Linked DNA regions of Homo sapiens. The protein of the gene in region 3 interacts with the protein of the main gene of each other region in a biochemical or structural test. Each region holds a gene or a part of one and is shown on either strand. Other genes may lie near its edges. The genes, in order: DRP2, SYNM and DTNA.

Region 1 (7,110 bases), on a different chromosome or scaffold from region 3:
AGACCTTTAAACTTAATATAATTTTATGAAAACTCAATGCATTGTCCTGACTTTTCTTACAATGCTTCAGGCTGGTGAAAAACCCTCAGATTGAGGAGGATGAAATTTAGAAACGATTGCTACATACAGCTCATCTCATAAGGCGCTAACTAGCTAATTTGGGGAGGGCTGGGAGGATGTTGAGAGGTGATTAATCCGGGTAACAGTGGCAGATGAGCCCAATGGGGAGGTCTTTTTGTGTCCCACAGGTGTTGGACTCATCTGGTAGCCTTATGTTTTACAGTACTTCTGTGGCTTCTTGGTCTACCCTCTCTTCCCACCCCCAAATAAGGGAAAGATATGAAATATCAGACTCAGAGAGTATAACCAGAGGAACCAAAGTAAACAAGTACAAATTTATTCTTTTCAAAGCAGAATTCAAGGGAAAGGGGGAAAGCACCACAGTGAGTGGCAATCAAAGTTAACCAATTTGTTCCCAACCCTGTCCCTTTGTCCCCTAGACTTCCATGCCACCCTTGTCACCTCCCCCAAATCCTTTCCCCAATTTTCATCCTGTGACCAGTTCTTGTAGCCAGCAAGCAGCATACCAGACTTCGGTCAGGCCTCAATACTGCCATAGGGGACAGCAAGGGCATTCAGCAGGCCCCCTCTCAAATGTGGCAACTGTGGGAGAAGATGGACTCTGCGAGCTGAGCCCTGGCCTTGAGCCTTTCCTTCTCCCACAGCCATTGGTGTTAAAAGAGTAAGAAGTAGCTAAAGTGTTCCTTGTTCCTACGGGAACCACCCAGCTGAAGAATTAAGTCTCCACAGCCTCAGGACAAGGCCCCCAGTTTTTTTCCCAGAACTGTTCGAGTTAAGGCAGCTACTTTCTTGCTTTTCTGTCATCTATGTGAAGGGAAATTGGATGGGATTTTTGGCCTTGAAATGGTGCCACAGACCATGACTCTGCCACTGAGAATGTGAGTTCAAATGCTGGATATAGAGCCCAAATCTCAAGCACACACATCAGGAAGCACAGATATTCCTTAAAATGAATCTGGAGGGAAAACATCTCCTAGGATTGGCCTCTTCCTGGCCTCAGGGTTTCTCATTTCTGTGTCCTGCCAACCCATTTCCTGGAGCACCAGAAACTCAAACAGATTTCTCTGTAGGGAAATAGTTCCCAACCTTGGACCTTGAAGAAAATGAGCACTTGAAACTCTTGATTCTAGCCTTTCTAATCTGGAGGGAAGGGCACATGTCCTCCCTAGGGAAGCATAGCACAGCCTGATGTCCTCCAGCTAGTCAGCCTTCCGTGACAATGCCCAATCAATGTGAATCCACTCTGCTGTCACTGGAAGCAGAGGTATCCTCGTAATGGCTTTTTGGCCTCTATCAAATTCTGTCAAGAAGAAATCACCTCTCAGTCCTAACTGTTCTCTGATACTATTTGACAACAACCCCAGCAAATGCTCACATTCCTTATCATTGATGCTAATCCCACAGTCAGAAGGTTTTCTTTAGGCTATCAATCTAGCAACTCCCTTCACCATCCTTCCAGTGTAGGGCTATAAACTACACAGTGCCATGCACAATATCCTTAGAAGACTAATACACAACAAGATGTCTAACAACATACAACACATTTTGGTAAATCCAACCCCAAGTTGGATTCATAGTACCCAAGGATCCATTTACCTTACTGTGGGAAAATTCCCCACACATACTGCAGTGACTGTCCCTGGACCCTTGAACAATACACTCACCTTAGGCATTAAGGTAAACACAGGACCACAAAATGTCAGTGACCCCTTAGTGAGAATTCAACTCTTGACCTGCTGCTTCAGTCCACCTACAACGCAAATCCTACATAACAAGATCTACATCTTTTCTACCATGCCTGGCCCACTGCAGTTGCCACAGGCCCTCAGCAGCCCAAGAGCTCTCAGGTGGGGTGGGGATAACAGAAAAGATTTTCCAGGACTTTCCTGGTAAAAAATTGCTCCATAACATGTACCCGCCTAAGGCTTAGGCAGGCATATGCCTCCAAAGTCCTTGAGCCCTCCGTCCCACATTCCCGCCCACAATCTAGGCTTCTACAAATATGCTCCCACTCTGACTGATGCCCAGGTTCTATGATTGATGCCCGCCTACCACCTGCTCAACCATCTATCCAGATACCCAGTTCTCCTGCCCAGAGACCTCATGAACACTAAGGCAGATGTTATGCTGTGAAGTCTGACACCCTGGACCTGTGACTTAGTGGTGGAGGAGGCAACCCTAAGCTTCTGGACCCAAGCCACTGCCCTGCCTCCCCTGCAGCAGATCAAACTAGGTTCCTAGCAGTTCTACCCACTGGCCCACTGCTGGATTATAATACAACACCCCAACCGTCACTCCCTCCTGATTGTGGTGGCAACTGTTGCTTTCTTTAGCCCTGAGTGAGACCATAAGAGCTGGAAGGGACCAGAGAATGTTCTCTGTGTCTTAGCTGGCAAAGGCTAATAAAGGCCTGTTTGTCCTTTTCTGCATGGGGTGGGCAGAGCTTGGGTTTGCTCTATTTTGGCACCTGAACCATTTAGGGGAGCCCAGGAAAATTCACCCAAGGCCCAGGTCTCAAGGGAACAAGATTTGGAATGAGTGAAGAGAACAGTGACTCTTCCTGTTAGATTCTCTGTGACCACAGGTTTCTGTTGCTTTGGTCTTGAGGACAGCCCACCCCAAACATCAATGGAGAGAGATATCCTAGGGGAACAGCCAGGATACATCTATCTTTCCAACCAGAGGCTGGGGCTAACAAAGAGCAAGGCAGAACATTAATACTTCAAGAGGTATTAGAATTTAATGTGTGAGTGAGGCCAGGAGAGCACTGATGTACAGTAGATATGTAGAATAGATATGTATGTATATAAACTTAGGCAAATGAAGTCAACTGCAGGGCTCTAGGTTATAAAGCTCCTCTTGGGAGAAAGCTGCCTAAGTGGGCTCTGAATCTATTCAACATTCCCAAGCCCACTCCCCCACCCCTACTATCTATTCTGAACAGTTTCTGGATAAAGAGATCATGGTATATGTCGCCTAGGAAGAGCTAGTTCAGTTTGAGGATTGGATTCACCTTCCAGAGTTAGAAATAACAATTTTAGGCACAGGAAGGCCTTGCTGTTGTTGTCTGGGTGGAAAGTGGCCAGCTTCCTGATTTGTGGCCTGTGGCTCCTATGGAGGGGCCACTACACACGGTAGCCAGTTGCAAATGCCTTATGATTAGCTGGGGACAATCAGCCACCTCACCTGATTCAGCCTGAGAGCTAGAAGGGTCACAGCCTGGAAGGGTGTTGGATGGCAGTCATACTACTCCAGACTTGAGGTGGGCTTCCTCTTCCTTACCCAAGGAAAGCAACACTCCCTTGCTCAGCAAGCTGCCACTGTGTCCTCAGGTCTGTGAGGACAGACTCAGAGGAGCAAAGGGTGGCTTCAGCCAGGTTTCCAGAGCAACTCGCAACTCAGTGGGTCTCTCAAAATGCTGAGGACTTTAAGAAATAGGAAGATGTGGGGCAAAAAAAAAATCTAAACCCATAAGTATGGATTTAATGCTTCCAAATATAACGTAGAAGAACCAGAATGAACTGTTCTCCCCTTAAGGAAGGTCTGTCAGGGACTGAGGCTAAAGAAAATGAAGATATTTGAGGAGAAACCAATACCTAGGTAGCATTAGGATGGCTAGCAATCTGTCCTGGAGCTGAAGTAATAGAACACACACTGCCCAGACTTTTTCAGGGGCACTTGGGGTGGGGAAGGTGTCTCGGGGATACCCTTTTGCCTCCCTGAGTTGCGCCAGAGAGTAGGGGTAAACCCTGTGGATTCATAATGCTGGATGGAACCTTGGGGTAATTAGGCTTCTCTCTTTCCATAATTCCACGGAGAAGGAAGAGGGGCCAACATGTACCGCTTAGCTCTGCAAGGCAGCTTCTCTGCTCCCCATCTGAATGGCCAAGTGATATTTGCCTGGGCTGCAACAGAAAGGTACTTAAAGGGCTGATCTCGAACTTGAAGATTAAAGGGAACATTTCTAGGGTCAGAAGAATCATGCCTCCCCTTCTCCCATCACTGCCCGCATGCACCTCACATACCACCAGATCCCTGCTGCTGCCCAGAGCCCAAATAATACTAGTTGAGGAATGTGGGGCCAGTGGAAACTGGAAAGGTTGGGTGAAGGCTGAGGAAAGGCTTTGACCGGAACCAGGAGAGGACTATGAACTATAGGATGGGGATCTGGCTCCATCAAGAGGCCAGCAGGGTGTTGGCAGTCACATCAGAACTTCGCACACTGGGGAAGGCATGACGGAGTTTCTCCATGATGTCCTCCAAGCACAGGCTGACATCCTGGCTCTTTGACCCCACATCATCTGGGTTAAAAAACAGAGATTTGAGAAGAGAACTAGAGACTCCTTTATGAGGCCAAGGGGTCAGATAGAATTCTGCCAGCTGAAGGGCAGACCTGCCCGCAGCATTTGCATCTTCCCAGCACAATGCCTAATACATAGGTTGTGCTCAATGTATATTTATTTGTGGAATAAGCATATGAATTAATCAATCAGTAAACCAATCATCCCTGACCCTAAGCACAAAGCCAAGAGGAGAAACCAGTCCCAGCCCCGCAAAGCCTTGGGCAGGAAATCGAGGGCAGGACAAAGCCATGGAGAAAGGGGCTGGGAAAGGCCAGGGGAACTCACCTGCAGCCTCGGTATCTGGAGTAGTCTGTCCCTTCTCCCGGGGGTGACTGCCTTCTGACTGCTGTGGAGAGGAAGCTAGGGACGAGCCTGCAGAGCCACTGCCATCTGATTCGGTGGGTGGCTAGCAAGAGGTAAGGCATGACTTAAGTGGATTTGCCTTCCTGACCTTACTCTGACAGACTCCTGAGCTTAGAAGGGACCTGAGAGACTTCATACCATCCCTTTACCCTTAGACTTTAAGAAGCTTTTGGTATTACCTAAAACAGTGGCTTCCACTTTTAGGAAACTTCTTAGAATATTGAATTACCCATTACCTTCTTCCTTTAACAACATGTGTCAAAGGCTCCCAGTTCTTATAAGAATGGCATTGTAGGCTGGGCGCGGTGGCTCACGCCTGTAATCCCAGCACTTTGGGAGGCTGACGCAGGCGGATCACCTGAGGTCAGGAGTTCAAGACCAGCCTAACCAACATGGAGAAACCCCGTCTCCACTAAAAATACAAAATTAGCCGGGCATGGTGGCCCATGCCTATAATCCCAGCTACTTGGGAGGCTGAGGCAGGAGAATCGCTTGAACCTGGGAGGCGGAGGTTGCAGTGAGCTGAGATCGAGCCATTACACTCCAGCCTGGGCAACAAGAGCCAAACTCTGTCTTGAAAATTAATTAATTAATTAATTAATTAAATAAAGAATGGCATTGTACCTAAAGGTCTCTTGCTGTCATTTCAGCTATAATTAAGCTATTTAGAACACAATTCTCTCTGGAAATGTAGAGTTTCACACCTGATCCTTGGTTCATGACATAGCATATGTTAGAAACCTCCAGGAATCCATAGAGGCCATTCCTTGGAGGATCTGGGGAAGAGGCAGAAGAGTGGTATTTTCCATTACATATAATGACAATAATAGGTAACATTTATGAAGTGTGTACTAAATTCCTGGCATCATGCTAAATTCCATAAATGCATTATCTCCTTTTATGTTCACCACAATTCTATGAAGTTGGTACTGTTACCATCTCTGTTGTACAGATGAGGAAACTGGGGCTTAGAGAGGTTAACTAACTGTCCAAACACCCCACAGTCAATTGGCAGAGCCACATGCAAACCCAGAGCTGCCTGACTCCAGAGCTTTACCACAGCATACACATTGCCTCTCAGAGATGAAAGGTGCAAAAAGTAACAAGAAACACCTTTAGATAGCACTAATCTTTCTCTTGCCAAACTTGTCCCAACCCACTTCTTTCTAGCAAATACCATACTAGCAAAATCAATGTTTTAGATGATTTTTGAAGTTTGTTCTTTTAGTATGGGATTCCAATGGGTTGTGAAGAAATAAGCCCTCAGAAGTCTTCTCTCTGCCCCAGGCCCCACAGTGGCTGGAGAGTGACACACAGGGTGGCATGGAAGGTAGGTGGAAGAGAGTTGGCTGAAGATGTGACCATACCAGTCTCTTCTTTCCCCCGCCCCCCCACCAACCGCAGGCCCAGTTCTCTTCAGGAAGTTACCTGACAGCCACTGCCAAGGAGCTCTCTCTTGTGTCTTCTTTGCCACAGCCCTCAGCTCCCCAGCCCTTCCCCTGGGCTCAGAGGCCACCCTGGCTCTTTTCCTGTCTCCATCCTCACCTGCAGGAGAAGCTCCCTCAGACGCTGCAGCTGGGACTCTAGCTGCTTGTTGTGATCTTCGAGGATCTGCATGCGCGTCTCCAGGCGGCTCTTATGTTGCCGAAGGATACGGGCCTCGGCCAGAAGCTCCTCATTGCGGTGGTCTGTTGCTGCCTCAGTGGAGCCGTCAGCCAGACTGGGTGCCTCAGCTGCCTCCTCATGCTGCCACTTCAGGCGCCTCAGCTCTCCCTGGAGAATCCTGCCATGGAGAGAGACACCAAGACCTATGGCTCTAACAGGGCTCTGACTGTCCAGGTTTCAGATGTCCCCTCAGGCCTAGGTGTGAACAATCCCTGTGCTCTTCCACCCTACCTCACCCCCACCCCCATCCCCACCCCCAGCTGTGCTCTTGCTTGAATGGCCACATCCACTTCCTCTCCAGCACATATGTCATTTACTCTGCCATCCTGAGACCTCAGAGCAGAGAAAGTTGACATTTTGCGTAAGAAATGTCTCAGGGCTTTGATGTGCTGCTTTAGGGATTAATTCTGACCTTAAAATCAGGCAGAAACACAGTCTGCAAATAAAGGAGGCATTAGGGCCACTGACTCACCTACTCCATTTTTAGATGTTTAGATTCCAAGGGAAAACATAACATAAACAAGAGACCACCTGTCTTGCCTCTTCTCTCCACAATCCTCCTCTTTGGCCCACTTTGAACACCCATGCTGGGTCATCAAAAAAACAAATTCCAAACAGGTGGCCTACTTTTGGGGATATCACTTTTGGCTTTGTTCGT
Region 2 (7,110 bases), on a different chromosome or scaffold from region 3:
AGACGGAGTCTTGCTCTGTCGCCCAGGCTGGAGTGCAGTGGCTGATCTCGGCACACCGCAACATCCGCTTCCTGGGCTCAAGTGATTCTCGTGCCTCAGCCTCCCGAGTAGCTGGGAGTACAGGATCCCACCACCCCGCCTGGCTAATTTTTGTATTTTTAGTAGATACAGGGTTTCACCATGTTGGCCAGCCTGGTCTCAAACTCCTGACCTCAAGTGATCCACCGGCCGTGGCCTCCCACAGTGCTGAAATTACAGGTGTGAGCCATGTGCCCGGCCATTTTTTTTTTCCAGTTCCAATTTGCAGAGGTTTTACTGCACTAAGTGTTACCAGTCACTACCTTGTCCATATACTGAATCTTCCCTCAGTTAACTTAAGTCAACTCCATTTCAAATTGCATTCCAGAAGATTCAGCACCAATCACAGAGATGCTAGGAAGTATGTGAAAGAGGGAGTATGGATGATTTAACCCCAAGCCTGTAATTTTTTTCGGGTTCTGTAGAAGCTTACTATGGGGAGAGTGAAAAAATCCTAAAAATGGGTTGAATTAGTATATGGTAATAAATATCTTATTACTAAGAGCCTTTAGCAAGTGCTTCGTGTGTGCCAGGTACCACAGATGCCCTTCACAAATATTCACTCTCAGTGCCCACACCAGTGTTACGAAGTGGGTACTAATATAAGCTCCATTTTACAGAGGAGGAAGCTGAGGCACATAAGTCACCTGATTAGTAAGTAGTTAAGCCAGGATTCAACTCAGGCTCTAGTGCCTGAGCAACTGACCGCTGGGCGTCCGTTTCTCTCTTCTGTCTGTTTGATCAGAGAGAAACCTTTAACCAGTATTCTTGCATTCATAGCATAATGATAATTGCTCTTCCTAAGGGCTAGCCCGAGGTACTCTGCTGATTTCAAGTCCTAAAATGCTTTTAGACCCCTCCAGCTGGCTGAATAGTTTTGGCATTAAAACTATTTTCTTTCATTTCTTTTTTTCTGTGTTCCATGTGCTTTAATGCCCCCCTCCCCTGGAGGCAGGAGCTGGAGGCAGCAGAGGGTGCTGCCACATTGTGCCCAGCTCTCCCTGCCTCTGGCTATAGCTTCTGTGGCTCAAGGGGGAAGATGCTTGCTAGGATTCTACTTGAGGGGAAACTGGTCCTTCCCAGATGGCCCATGCGCCTTCACTGTATGAGGCGGTAGTCATTGGCCTGCCCCAGGCCTGGCCTCAGATTTGCCCGAGAAGAGTTTGCTGAACTGACATCCAAGTTCCCAAATGTGATCTAGATCACTTGAAGCCTGAGTGACACACCCAGGCTGCAGGAGGGGGCTTCAGAAAACACTTGAAGACATTTGCGATAAAGTGGAGACCAGCTTCACCCTGCAAACACGGAGATTTTTGCTTATGAAAGTGAGCCCTTAGCTGCTGAGGCTGACTGGAAAAGGCTTCCAAGCCCCCAAAACATGATTGAATGAAAGCTTTTTGTAGATGGGAAGGTGGGGTGGGATTAGGATGGGATTAGCTAAGGGTCAGTGCTCTGCAGCTGTCCTACCTGGCCCTGAATTCTGACTCTGCCGCTCTTTGGGCAGGTTACGTTCCTTAACCTGTCTGCAATTCAGTTTCCCCATTTGTGAAACGAGGTACTGGAAGTAGCTCCCAGGGTGTGTACAACTGGTTCATTCGTTCAGCTAACAGCCGTTGAGCATTTAGTGTGCCAAGCTCAGTTCTTCATGGTTGCAGATTCAGCAGTGAAAAATGCCACGTAAAACAAAGAAAGTCCCTTGACCTGAGAGGCCTTCAGGTGGAAACAGCGTGTGGTTTTTCGGGGATGCCTCAGCCAGGCTGCCGGTGTGGCTAGGGCACAGTGAACAGGGGGTAGAGTGGCCACTGCAGGACTTGGGCATTTACTTTGAGTGCCATGGGAAGCCACTGGAGGTTCTGAGCCGAGGAGAGTTGGGGCCTGGCTGTGGCTTAGTGGAATCACTGTTGCTGCTGTTTTAAAAATAGACTGAGTGGACTCAGGGATGCCTTCAGAGATTGTTGCAGTAACCCAGGCAGGAAGTGCTCGAGGCTTGGACCAGGGGTCTCAGAGGGGCCCCTGCGTTCAAGTTGAAGCCAACGGCATTTGCTGCCAGATTGAATGTGATGGGAGAGGGAGAAATCACAGTGGACTTCAGGCGTTGTGGCCTGAGCAACTGGAAGAAGGGACTTTCCTTGTTTTACGTGGCATTTTTCACTGCTGAATCCGCAGCCATGAAGAACTGCGCTTGGCACACTAAATGCTCAACGGCTGGTAGTTGAACGAATGAACCAATTGTATACACCCTGGGAGCTACTTCCGGTACCTCTTATACGCTTTACTGCGGGGCATTGGTTAGGAGGACGGGCCTGGGTGGGAGATTCAAGTTCCATGTACGTGTGTTCAGTTTGAGATGCTTCTTACACACCCACCTGGAATTGTAAAATATAACTTGAGTTCAGGGTGCTGTCTGGGCTAAGCTATAAATACTTCGTCGGCATCCAGTTCGTGCTTATTGTTATGAATACATTTAATTTTTGTGTGTAGCTGAAGTTATCACAGTATTTAAATCCCCTGGAGCTCTACCTTTCAAGGTTGCAAATGACAGTGATATTTGTGAACTGTCCCACAGGCTTGCTCAGTGAGCGGTAGCTCAAGTTTGGCTAAGAGAAAATTAATTCTTTTGATACTGACAGCAGCATGCCTTTCCTGGTGTGGAGCAAGATTTCATCATCGGTTGTGATGCTGCCCAAAAGTTCTCTAAATAGCAAAAAGGTGACCTCTCTCCCAAGCTTTTGCAGCATTAGGTGAAACTGCCTCTGCTCGGGTGAGATGTAGCGTCCCGTGTCTGGGGCTCCAGTGCCTCTGTCCTGACCCACAGCTTGCTGACTGGCCAAGCAGAGCCCAAGTCTGAAGTTTTATTCCACAGCAGGATTTGTTGTGATTTCTGCAGAGACCACTGGGAGCCAGTTAAGTCTTATATTCCTGCTTCCAAACGTCAACTAATTTTCCTTTGACAATTTAGGAGGAGCTGACTCACATGGAAATGTGACTGAAACTGTACTTATTCCAACTTCAACACAGTTTGATTTTCCTCTTTGTATTTTGTGGGTGCAGAACTATTCTGTGTGCTCTGGGAGGAGTATCTTCCTGCACACCCCTTCCACGTGACTAGGCTTTCTTGACCTGCTCAGGAGGTTTGTGGTTGGAGAGCTTTCATCGTATTTTTTTTCTAAGCAGTTTAACAACATTTGAACTTCTTTGTAAGGAATAAATTACTATAAATTTTTAATTTGTAATAGTTATGTCAAATTTCCTGTAGTAGGAAGGACACACATACATACATACATGCATACCTACAGCCCATCTTGTATGAGAACCTTGTACCTGAATTGTATTCCCTCTAAAACAGGGGAATGTAGGATTTTGACATTGAGATTTAACTCTAGAATGTGTGAATATTGTGGCTAAATTGTGGCAGTGCTGTCACTTACATCAAGACTGGCAGTTGCTCTTTGGTGAGCTTCTCTGTTTGTAATGCCAGCTGTGGGATCTGTTATCGTTTTTCCACCCTGGGACATAAGCCAGTGATTTTTAAGTTTACTTCTTTGCTTTAAAAGCTAAGGGGTTTTAAACTACTTCAGGACCCTTTATATTCAGGGAACCTAACAGCCATCATTGGCATAGAAATAGAACTGTTATGAGAAGTGGGAATATTTATTGGCTGATCATGCATTTTAAAAAATGATAAATTCTGGCTGGGTGCAGTGGCTTGTGCCTATAATCCCAGCACTTTGCAAGGCTGAGGCGGGAGGATCACCTGAGGTCAGGAGTTCAAGACCATCCTGGCCAACGTGGTGAAACCCCGTCTCTACTAACAATACAAAAATCAGTTGGGCGTGATGGCAGGCGCCTGTATACAGTCCCAGCTACTTGGGAGGCTGAAGCTGGAGAATCACTTGAACCTGGGAGGTGGAGGCTGCAGTGAGCCGAGATTGTGCCATTGCACTCCAGCCTCGGTGACAGAGCGAGACTGTCTCCAAAAACAAACAAAACAACCAAAAAGATAAATTCCATGTGCAATCTTGTAGAGTTCATTCCTTGGTTTCACAGACATATTTATTATGGACCCTCAGCATCTTGCCGGGTGCCTTTGGTGAAGGGATTCCAGCAGCAATGAACATAATATTCCCTCTCCCAGTAGTCTTACCGTTTTTGAATTCTACAAAGATAAATGTTTATAGGTCTAGCTTAGTTTAGTTAATGATGTTCAGAAATAATGCTACTTCCCATTACAAACCAGAAGTTAAAAGTACATGGACTTATTTCAATGTTTAAATACTTGCTTGGTTAATTGTTCCCCAGAGTAACTAACAACTAGGAATAAAACAAAACTGGAAATCGGTGCAGCTGAAGCCCATATGTTTGTTTGAGAAGATACTGTCGACTTCAAATAGTACATTTTGAGGAGGGTGATATGATCTTGATCATTTCATTTTAAATTTAATTGAGCAGCTATGTGCTGTGTGACTTGTATGTGGTGGGCACTGGTCTAGGTCTGGGATTCAGAAGGCCGCAGTATCTCCCTGCCAGGTAGAGAGGCAGGTCGGGGACCCGGCCAGGGGTGAGGGGAGCTGCGAGGAGCACCCAGGACGCCCTTACTAGCTGCACTGTGCAATTACGGTTCATAAAGCAGTTTTATTTATTTTTATTTTATTTTTTGAGGTGGAGTCTCGCTCTGTCGCTCAGGCTGGAGTGCAGTGGCATGATCTTGGCTCACTGCAACCTCCGCCTACTGAGTTCAAGTGATTCCTGTTCCTCAGCCTCCTGAGTAGCTGGGATTACAGGTCTGCGCCACCATGCCCAGCTATTTTTTGTATTTTCAGTAGAGACAGGGTTTTGCCATATTGGCCAGGCTGGTCTCGAACTCCCGACCTCAAGTGATCCGCCCGCTTCGGCCTCCCAAAGTGTTGGGATTATAGGTGTGAGCCACCACGCTAGGCCCAAAAAGAAGTTTTATATCTGAGTCTGTAGTTTGTCATTTATGCCCAGAATGCATTTCTCCCCAGATGATCTTAAAGTAGCTTTTCTAAGTGAAACAAAACTCTGTATCAGTTTACCTGCTTATTGTTGGAGAAATCATGACTTTGGGGAGTACATTTCAGTTCAATTCTGAGTGACTTATGTTTTGAATATTGTAAAACCCCTGATTTCTAGTCTTGGCTTATTTTCCATAGCGTCTTAGTGACTGGTTTGAAGCACTGGCTCTCCTAAGCAGCCTGATGTCTAAACGGTAGAGATGATTTGAATAAACTCCTAAGCATTCATTATTAATAGAGAGTCTGAACAGAGAAGCCAGTGTCCTATCAAAATGTTCCACATGCAATAAAAAACTTCCATATGGAAGAGATACAACATTGGAAACCATCCTGCAAGTGACTGCATGTTTAATAACGCCGGGTGTTTTTCTGGTCTGCTAATAACCCTGGTCTGTTTTTCAATTCGATCCTGAATTGTTGGTACCTTCAGTTCGACCCAGTAAAGCTCCAGTTCTCTGATATAAAAGTCTGTCTATTCTCTTTAGAGAGTGATTGACTGCCTGGAGGATGAGAAGGCAACCCTCACCTTGGCCATGGCTGACTGGCTGCGGGACTATCAGGACCTCCTGCAGGTGAAGACCGGCCTCAGTCTGGAGGTGGCGACCTACCGGTAAGGAGACTGTGCTGAGTTGGCCTTGACGAAGCCATGGGGGTGTAACTTGCACATGAAGGAAACTGGTCTAGGGACCGTAGCCTTTGTGGAGTCACTGTGGCTTTGTGACAAGCAGAGAGCAGCCCTTGGCATGGCCAGGCAAGGAGTCCGAGGCCAAAAGGAAGAGGAAGAGTAGGGCTTGCTTAGGTCACTGAGCAGGTGTCTCCAGCAAGGGAGTAGCTGAGCCGTGCCCCCTTACCTAGTGTTTGTATGTTCTGGGGACTGCTGAAGAGCTTCACACATGTCAACGTGTTGGATCCTAGGAACTGGAGACTGTGTTTACAGATGAACAGACTTTGCTCAGAGAAGTTACAGAACTGGAAAGTGGAGGGCCAGGATGTGTTAGTGTGTTTTCACACCGCTATAAAGATCCTACCTGAGCCTGGGTAATTTACAAAGGAAAGAGGTTTAATTGACTCACAGTTATTCCGCAGGGCTGGGGAGGCCTCAGGAAACTTACAATCGTGGCGGAAGGCAAAGGAGAAGCAAGAACCTTCTTCAGAAGGTGGCAGGAGAGAGAGAGAGCTCAGGGGAAACTGCCACTTTTAAAGCATCAGATCTCATGAGAACTCACTCCCTATCATGAGAACAGCGTGGGGAAAATTGCTCCCATGATCCAGTCACCTCCCACCAGGTCCCTCCCTCAACACGTGGGGGTTACAAATCGAGATGAGGTTTGGGTGGGGACCCAGAGCCAAACCGTGTCACAGGATTTGGACCCAGGAAGTCTGTGTCTATCTGCTTGATTGTTGCTTTGAATCTCAGGGCTCTGATGCCACCCTGTGTGGGTTTGGCCCTGAACTGAATCTCTTCCAAGAGATTAGCATGGTGCATGCTAATGTAGGCCAACTGGCTTTATGTATCAAGATGTTGACTTGAGTTCAAGGTAACCAACTCTGATGAAAAGGTCACAAAGCGCTCAAAGGGGCTGGGTGCTGGGTGGGGCAGAGAATGCAGTCCAGTCCCCCTGGGTGTGGCCTGCAGGCCGGCGGAACAGTGCTCCTCCCCTCCTTGGCATCACCCTCCTTTCCCCTGGGTGCCAGTGCGTCTTTGATTGAGGTGGTGCCCCTTGTTTCCTGGCAGCTCTCATGCTCAGGGCAGCTATGAAGGAGCCAGGGTCTGTGACGCTTACAGTGGAAGGAATTTTAGAGACCCAGTTGCCCAACTTCAGGAACACTAACAATAGCCAGCTTTATGGCGTCCTTACTGCCTGCCAGACGTGGTGCTGAGTTCTTTGCCACTATTCTCTGCTCCGAGTCAACTCTGAGGTGGGCACCACTCTCCCCTCTTAGAGGTGAGAGAGAGAGGCCGGGAGGTTGGGGCTGCAGGCTGGTGAGGGGCAGAGCC
Region 3 (7,110 bases):
GTGCTGGTTGCTATGAGAACCACCGGCATGTCCCCTCCAGAAGCAGTCCTGACAGAGCTGGTAATTGTGACACTGTTGGCATCGGTAGCGAAATCCCATCATACTCTCACTGTGGCAGTAGGAACACTCAACCGGATGGAAGACTAAGGGGGAAGTAAGTGAAGAAAAACCAAGAAAACAAAAGTATGAACCAGAAGAAGGAAAAATACAGCCTTACAGGAATTGCACCTTTCTTCTCTGCACCACGATTTCAGATGATAGTTGATTTGGGCTCAGAGAAACATTTAGTTCATTCCTGGAATCTTACAACCCTTTTCAATCATGCCTGTGGGGAAATGAAATGAAATGGGATGGAGAAGAGGTGTCCTTTTAACAACAAAAATCTCTGTAATGCCATTTGCTCTTTCTATTCCCATCTCTCACATTACAAGAATTTAAATTAGCCAAACAGACTTGCCTTTACCCCAAACTGCTCTCTGTCTCCAGGAGACCAGCACAGCTCACTGGAAGACTCAGAAGCACAAGGGGTGAATGCTGATTGTCCAGTGGGAAGAGAGCGAATATCAGAGACACGGAGAATGAGAGGAAGAAAAAAGAAAGGAAGATGGGCAGAGAATGGAAAACTGGTGTGGATGAGATAATTAAGTTATTTTTTAAAAAATAGAGTGACTAATGGCTTACTTAACGAGTGGTGTTGCCTACATCTGACAAACAGATTTTTTTTTCTTTCCTGAGGCAGGTGTATAGGGCCCTAAAAAAGATGTGCAAATTATCTGAAAACAGTTCTAAATAATTCAAATGCCTCAAGAGACGGTTAACTTTCTTTGGTAGGAAATTTGAATTATAAAGCAGGCAAAGCAAAATACTAGATTTGAAGCAAAGTAAAATATTAGATTTAAGTGATCAAATCCAAGTAATTGTCTACATGCTATGAGCTAGATACTAAAACAACAATAACAATTCTTGCCTTTGGTAAAGCTATTCTCCGGCCTAACCAGTCAGGAAAAACAATGAAAATAATAATAAATGAAGATAAAAAGCAAAGTGTAAAAACAAAGACATAACTAGCTCTGGACGCATTGTCTTCTAAACAAGTGTCATAACCTTTCTTCCCGGCTCTTGAGAAAGACTAGAGTGGGACTTCAATCTAGGGACAACTGTTCTGGGATGGTGCCTAAGAAACTGATCTCCTGCAGCAGGAAATGCTGAGAGAGAACGAAAGAAATTATAGCTTTATGATTGGAAAATGACTAGTTCTAGAACTGTAAACAGTAACGTGAACTCATTTTGCATAATAACATGGACCTTGATTGCTCTTCGCTTCTGCATATGGATAAACATAAAAAAACTATGATTGTTAGTGATTGCAAAAAAATAAAATAAATTCATTCTTTAAATTTTCTCCATGAGAAAAACAGGATAAATTCATAACTTCTAACTAACAGATAAATAAGGGCAGATGCTAAAAATTCTGAATGATAATTTAAAATTAAGCTAACTTTAGCTGCAATGTATATTAAAGAAATACACAGAAGTTGAGTAATATATAGAGACTTAAGTTAAATCTCAGTAAGAGATAGAGACTAAATTATTTCCTCGTCAAGTCTGGAGAAATTTCAGAGTTACATTGAACAATAAGTAGGAACACCTAAAGATTAGATGGAGGCACTGAACTGCTCCATGTTTAATTTTCTGTAAATTTTGCCCCAAATGGTATTTCATATTTAAATCTGGATATGCCAACAGTAGTTCCTTTTATCCTAGAAATACTTGCTTTAAAAAAAGACATGATACGAAAGTTATTTTACTCTTATCTTTAACGTAAGTACAACTATTGAAAGCTCACAATCTGGAACATATGACTAAAGATTAACAGGGTGCTATCATCTATTTTTTTTTCTCATTTCTCCCACCTATTTCTGGCTGAGTGCCTGGGAAGAAATAATCAGTACCGTGTATGCAAATATGAGAAATTCGGATCTAAAACAAATACAAAATAATGTCACACTCCTTGTTGAAGTTCGCCTTCTATCGTGCCAAGTCTTTTAACCACACCTGACTTGTAATTGAGAAGAAGACCATGAGATTTATTTTTGGAACTGACAGTCCTAATTTTTCAGTGGTCCTTTAAGGCCTTCCCGAACAGGGAGATGGGTTAGTTCTACCCTAAACAAAACTAAGAGCCACTAAATAGGCTTCCCTAAAACAACAGCCTGGGCTTACTAACTGTAGAACTAATGGCCTAATTTCAATAATTTAAAAAATCACCTTTGCTCCTTAGTAACTACTCACCATTTTCCACATTTGCTAGTCGATGCAGAAGAGGCAACCAGACCAGACACTGCGGGGGAGGATCTGACATAAGCGTGTCCAAGAAACCATTTAACGTGACTTTTTTCTGCATAAAAAAACCCCCCATAAATTTAGGACAGAGAATCATCTCAATTTACCTGCTATGTAAATATCATATCATTTGAGACTGAAACAAAAGAGCACTCAATAAATGTCTAATATCTGAAGAAACAGAACTTGCCAAATGTGTTATTAAACTAGTTTAGAACTGAAAACATCGTTTGCTTTTTATACCTAAGCAGACATAGGACTGAATTCTCTCCACTGAGGCTGAGTCAATAGTATCACCAGGAGAAAAACAATTCCAAGAGCATCATTTGTATATATGAAAGACAGTATAAAAATAATGAAGCAAAATAAAGAATGGAAATTCTCCATGGAATTTTACTCAAGAACGCATCATAGCTCACTCTACAATTTTCCTGTCAGTCAGTCTTCTAAATTTATAGAACAACTTCCCTTCTGAGCTTCCTCAACTTCCTTAAGTACTAAATATTTAGTGGTTAATGTGAATGGTTCTGTTATACAAGAGCAGGAGGGAATCCTGTTAGGACAGAACCATCTACATTTTTAAAAATTTGCTCCTTTTATTACTTTATATATAATTCCTCTCAATTCAGTCTGCTTCTTTCTCACTATCCAGGTCCTTTTGGATGTACAAAAGGAATGCATTGTATCTATAAGTTTCTTTCAAAATGATAAAAGTAAGAAAGCTATATTAATACATGTACTGTAATGGTATAAATAAAAAAATACATATTTATATGCAAAAATCACTACTTGAAATTTTGAACTAGAATATCAAAGGGGATGGGATAATTTTATTTATTTATTTTTTAAAATATTTTATTTATTTGCTTGAAAGATGGGGTCTCATTATGTTGCCCAGGCTGGACTCTAACTCCTGGTCTCAAGCTGTCTTCCTACCTCCTCCTACCTACCTCAGACTCTTGAGTAGCTGTTAATAGCCAATTCATTAAGTACAAAAATAAACTGGTCTTATTATTTTTGTGTTACCTCTTTTCATATTTGAAATGATCTTATTCATTTTGACTATTTGTCATACTTGCTAAAAAGCACTCCTGGAAGTTTCCAACAATGCTATTATGATTTCAACATGTATAAGTTGCTTATCATTAAGGATATATATAAATCATATAACAGAACAGTCTATAGGATATTTCAAAAGGAATTTTGAACATGTCAACATCACATATAATTCTTGAACACATAGGTCCTTTTTTCTCTTTTTTTTTTCTTTTAGAGACAGGATCTCACTCTGCTGCCCAGGCTGGAGTGCAGTGGCACAATTATAGCTCACTGCAACCTTGAACACCTGGGCTAAAGGGATCCTCTCATCTCAGCCTCCCAAGTAGCTGGGACTATAAGTGTGTGCCACCACACCTGGCTAATTGTTTAATTTTTTTTTTTTTTCAGAGATGAGATCTTACTATGTTGTCCAGGCTGGTCTTGAACTGCTGGACTCAAGCTCTCCTCCTGCCTCAGCCTCTCAGTGCTAGGATTACTGTGTGAGCCATCACACCAGCATAGGTCCTTTTAAGATTTTTTTTTTAAAACCCAGTCCTATTATTCTAGCTGATTTTGAATGAGACATATATTCTGAGGCATTAGCACATTTACCAATTATTCTATAATACACTAACTAAAATTCAAGAATTCAGTTATAAATGAAATTATTCTTGTTTCCATGACTGGGTGAAGTAATACAACAGGTAGTTACATTTCCTTGAGTCAGATCATCTGCATATTTGTAAATATGAACTGAAAGTGCACAAAACAAAAGCAACAACAACAAGAACACAAGAATAACATTAACAGATGGAATTAGAAGACCAGAGTTAAAAACTCAGCCCCCTGCCCTCACTAGCTATGAACTTTATATTGTTAAAAAAGAATCATATTTTCCTTGTTAGGTCACAGGGTTGTTGCAAGCCATAAATCAGATAATTCACTTTGTGAGGCATAAAGCACTGTAAAAATAAAAGGAGCCATACATTTAGCATGCCATGAGAAAAGTTGGAAAGCAGTAAAATTGAATGAAAAAATAGATTTGTGTTTTGAAGTGATTGACTTTTTTTTTTTTTTTTTTTTTGAGATGGAGTCTTGCTTTGTCTCCCAGGCTGGAGTGCAGTGGCACAATCTTGGCTCACTGCAACCTCTGCCTCACGGGTTCAAGCAATTCTCCTGCTTCTAGCTGGGACTACAGGTGCCTGCCACCATGCCCGGCTAATTTTTGTATTTTTAGTAGAGACGGGGTTTCAACATATTGGACAGGCTGGTCTCAAACTCCTGACCTTGTGATCCGCCCGCCTTGGCCTCCCAAAGTGCTGGGCTTACAGGAGTGAGCCACCTCACCCGGCCTATTGACACTTTTAAAAGTTAATTTCAGTAAAAAGAAAAGACTTCCTGACTCTTAATCCATAAAGCTGTGTAGTGAGCATTTGTTGTATGCATTTTATGGGGCAGGGATATACCTTTTTTTTTTTTTTTGAGACAGGGCCTTGCTCTGTCGCCCAGGCTGGAATGCAGTGGCGCCATCCGGGCTTAAGCTATCCTCCTGCCTCAGCCTCCTGAGAAGCTAGGACTACAAGCATGTACCACCATGCCTGGCTATGTTTTAAAAATTTTTCGTAGAAATGGGGTTTCCCTATGTTGCTCACACTGGTTTTGAACTCCTGAGCTCCTGAGCCTCGGCCTCCCAAAGTCCTGGGATTATAGGAGTGAGCCACCACACCCAGTCAAGAGGCATTTTTAGAGGACAAAAAAGTTAGTTTGGATTCTCAAAAAATGGTAAACTAACCTTTAATGTATGGATTTCTATGCTACCACTGGGCTACGCTGGAGAATGGGCCTGGAGTCTCTCTACATGACCAGAGAGGTACACACATAGATAGCCCCCTAAACTATGCAGCTTCCCAGGGTAGCTTGAGCCATACCCAGTTAAAACACATCACTTGGAACCCCAAATGTGTCATGCTGTAGAAGATTCAGGCAGCTGTGTTTACCATATTTTGGGCCTCTCAGGTCATGATGTGGCAGATGTTGGGATTCCTTTCTGGTATCCTTTGCTAAACCAATGTTAAAGCTTGTTGCCGGGTCAAGCATATATTTCACATGAGGCTGAGTGAGACAATTAAGCCCTTTTGAAAGTGCAGTGATAGTAAAAATAATGACACTGAGGGTGTAGGTGATATGGTAAGGCTTTGTGTCCCCACCCAATCCCATCTTGAACTGTAATTCCCAGGTGTTGAGGGAGAGACCTGGTGGGAGGTGATTGGATCATGGGGTGGTTCCCCCATGCTGTTTTCATGATAGTGAGGGAGTTCTCAGGAGATCCGATGGTGTTATAAATGGCAGATTCCCCTGGGCTTTTCATTCTTTCTCTTTCCTGTCGCCATGTGAAGAAGGTAGGTCTTTGCTTCCCTTCACCTTCCACCAGGATTGTAAGTTTCCTGAGGCGGAACTGTGAGTCTGTTAAACCTCTTTTCTTTATAAATTACCCAGTCTCGGGTATGTCTTTATAGCAGTGTGAAAAGAGACTAACACAGAAGGGTTGTTGTAGGGATTAAATTAGACAATGAAAGGAAAAAATTTAGCACAGTGCCTGCCTCATGGTCAGTAAACACTGTCTATTATTGTGATCCAGATGTGCTGGGTTTAGTTACTGGCTCAGAGGTCATTTGCCAGAGGCTGAAAAATACAATACAGGTTGCTATCACACAGAATAATTTGTCTGAGTATCTGTGACCTGGAATGACATCTAGAAGGAGAGCAACCACTGTTTGAAAGAGATACTTCCTTAAACATATTTTTCTCCTACCTGTTGGGAGAAACAGGATCTGGCTGACTGTTCTGTGTAACCAAATGAAGGACCTTCAAAAACTGCCGTGGGTAGTTTGAGAACTTCCCGAAGGAATTGGTCATATCGTCCATAAACCATCACCCCACTGGAGTCAGAAATCATTGAGAAAATATCTGATGAAAGGAAAAGGAAAGATATTATTCATCACATGAACATTCTCCACTGTTTTTGTTCAATATATCTGCTACAAATGACAAAAAAGTAGCAAAATAAACATTTTTTATGAAAGAATAATATAAAAGCTAATTTTTATGCTGAAATATTCCTGGCATAATGTTTTCTCTGGTTTCTTTTTGTAGATGATTCTGGCACATAGCAATCACAAGTAATTTGGGTAAAGTTAACATTTTAATGAGAGAGACACTTATTAAATGTCTTTAATAAGACACTACATTTTTGTTTTGAGGTCAACTATTAACTCTCATGTAGCTCAACAAGAGAAATTTTTGTATATATGAGAGAGACGCTGACTTCATTTGAAACACAATGAGAGTTTTACTATAAAGTTGGGGTGTGCGTATATTCATTTATCTAGCTAGAAATTTACCAATTTATATTATCACTAAAACTTTCGGATTTTGGTGTAAGATATTTGAAAATCAAAGACACGGTGAGGATAAAGATGTAATGACAAACACTTGATTAACTTCCTACAGAAGAAGAAAACTTTCTATGAATTACAGTTTTCTGGGTGGAAGGCACTTGATTTACAGGGAAGGGTTTTCTGACTCGTGTAGTGAAGAGGAAGCCTGGTCTTGTGGATGATCAATGAGGTAAAGTCAGGGTCCTGGATCTTTCTCTGAAGGGCCTATGGCTTCACTGAACCACTGTTCTTCAATTTCTGCCACTATGTGCATTTAATGAATATTAATGGC

The links.
Region 1: the proteins of DTNA (region 3) and DRP2 form a complex in vitro, tested with the Homo sapiens proteins (one study listed by BioGRID and IntAct).
Region 2: the proteins of DTNA (region 3) and SYNM form a complex in vitro, tested with the Homo sapiens proteins (one study listed by BioGRID).

What each region holds. Positions count from the first base shown.
Region 1 is NC_000023.11:101,257,769-101,264,878, reverse strand, and holds the end of DRP2 (dystrophin-related protein 2), read right to left. Parts: intron 6,571-7,110; coding exon 6,333-6,570; intron 4,831-6,332; coding exon 4,710-4,830; intron 4,383-4,709; coding exon 4,258-4,382; 3' UTR 377-4,257; downstream 1-376. UniProt on the Homo sapiens protein: Required for normal myelination and for normal organization of the cytoplasm and the formation of Cajal bands in myelinating Schwann cells.
Region 2 is NC_000015.10:99,107,995-99,115,104, forward strand, and holds part of SYNM (synemin), read left to right. Parts: intron 1-5,596; coding exon 5,597-5,721; intron 5,722-7,110. UniProt on the Homo sapiens protein: Type-VI intermediate filament (IF) which plays an important cytoskeletal role within the muscle cell cytoskeleton.
Region 3 is NC_000018.10:34,811,197-34,818,306, reverse strand, and holds part of DTNA (dystrobrevin alpha), read right to left. Parts: intron 6,349-7,110; coding exon 6,194-6,348; intron 2,399-6,193; coding exon 2,293-2,398; intron 346-2,292; exon of another isoform or gene 144-345; coding exon 1-143. UniProt on the Homo sapiens protein: May be involved in the formation and stability of synapses as well as being involved in the clustering of nicotinic acetylcholine receptors.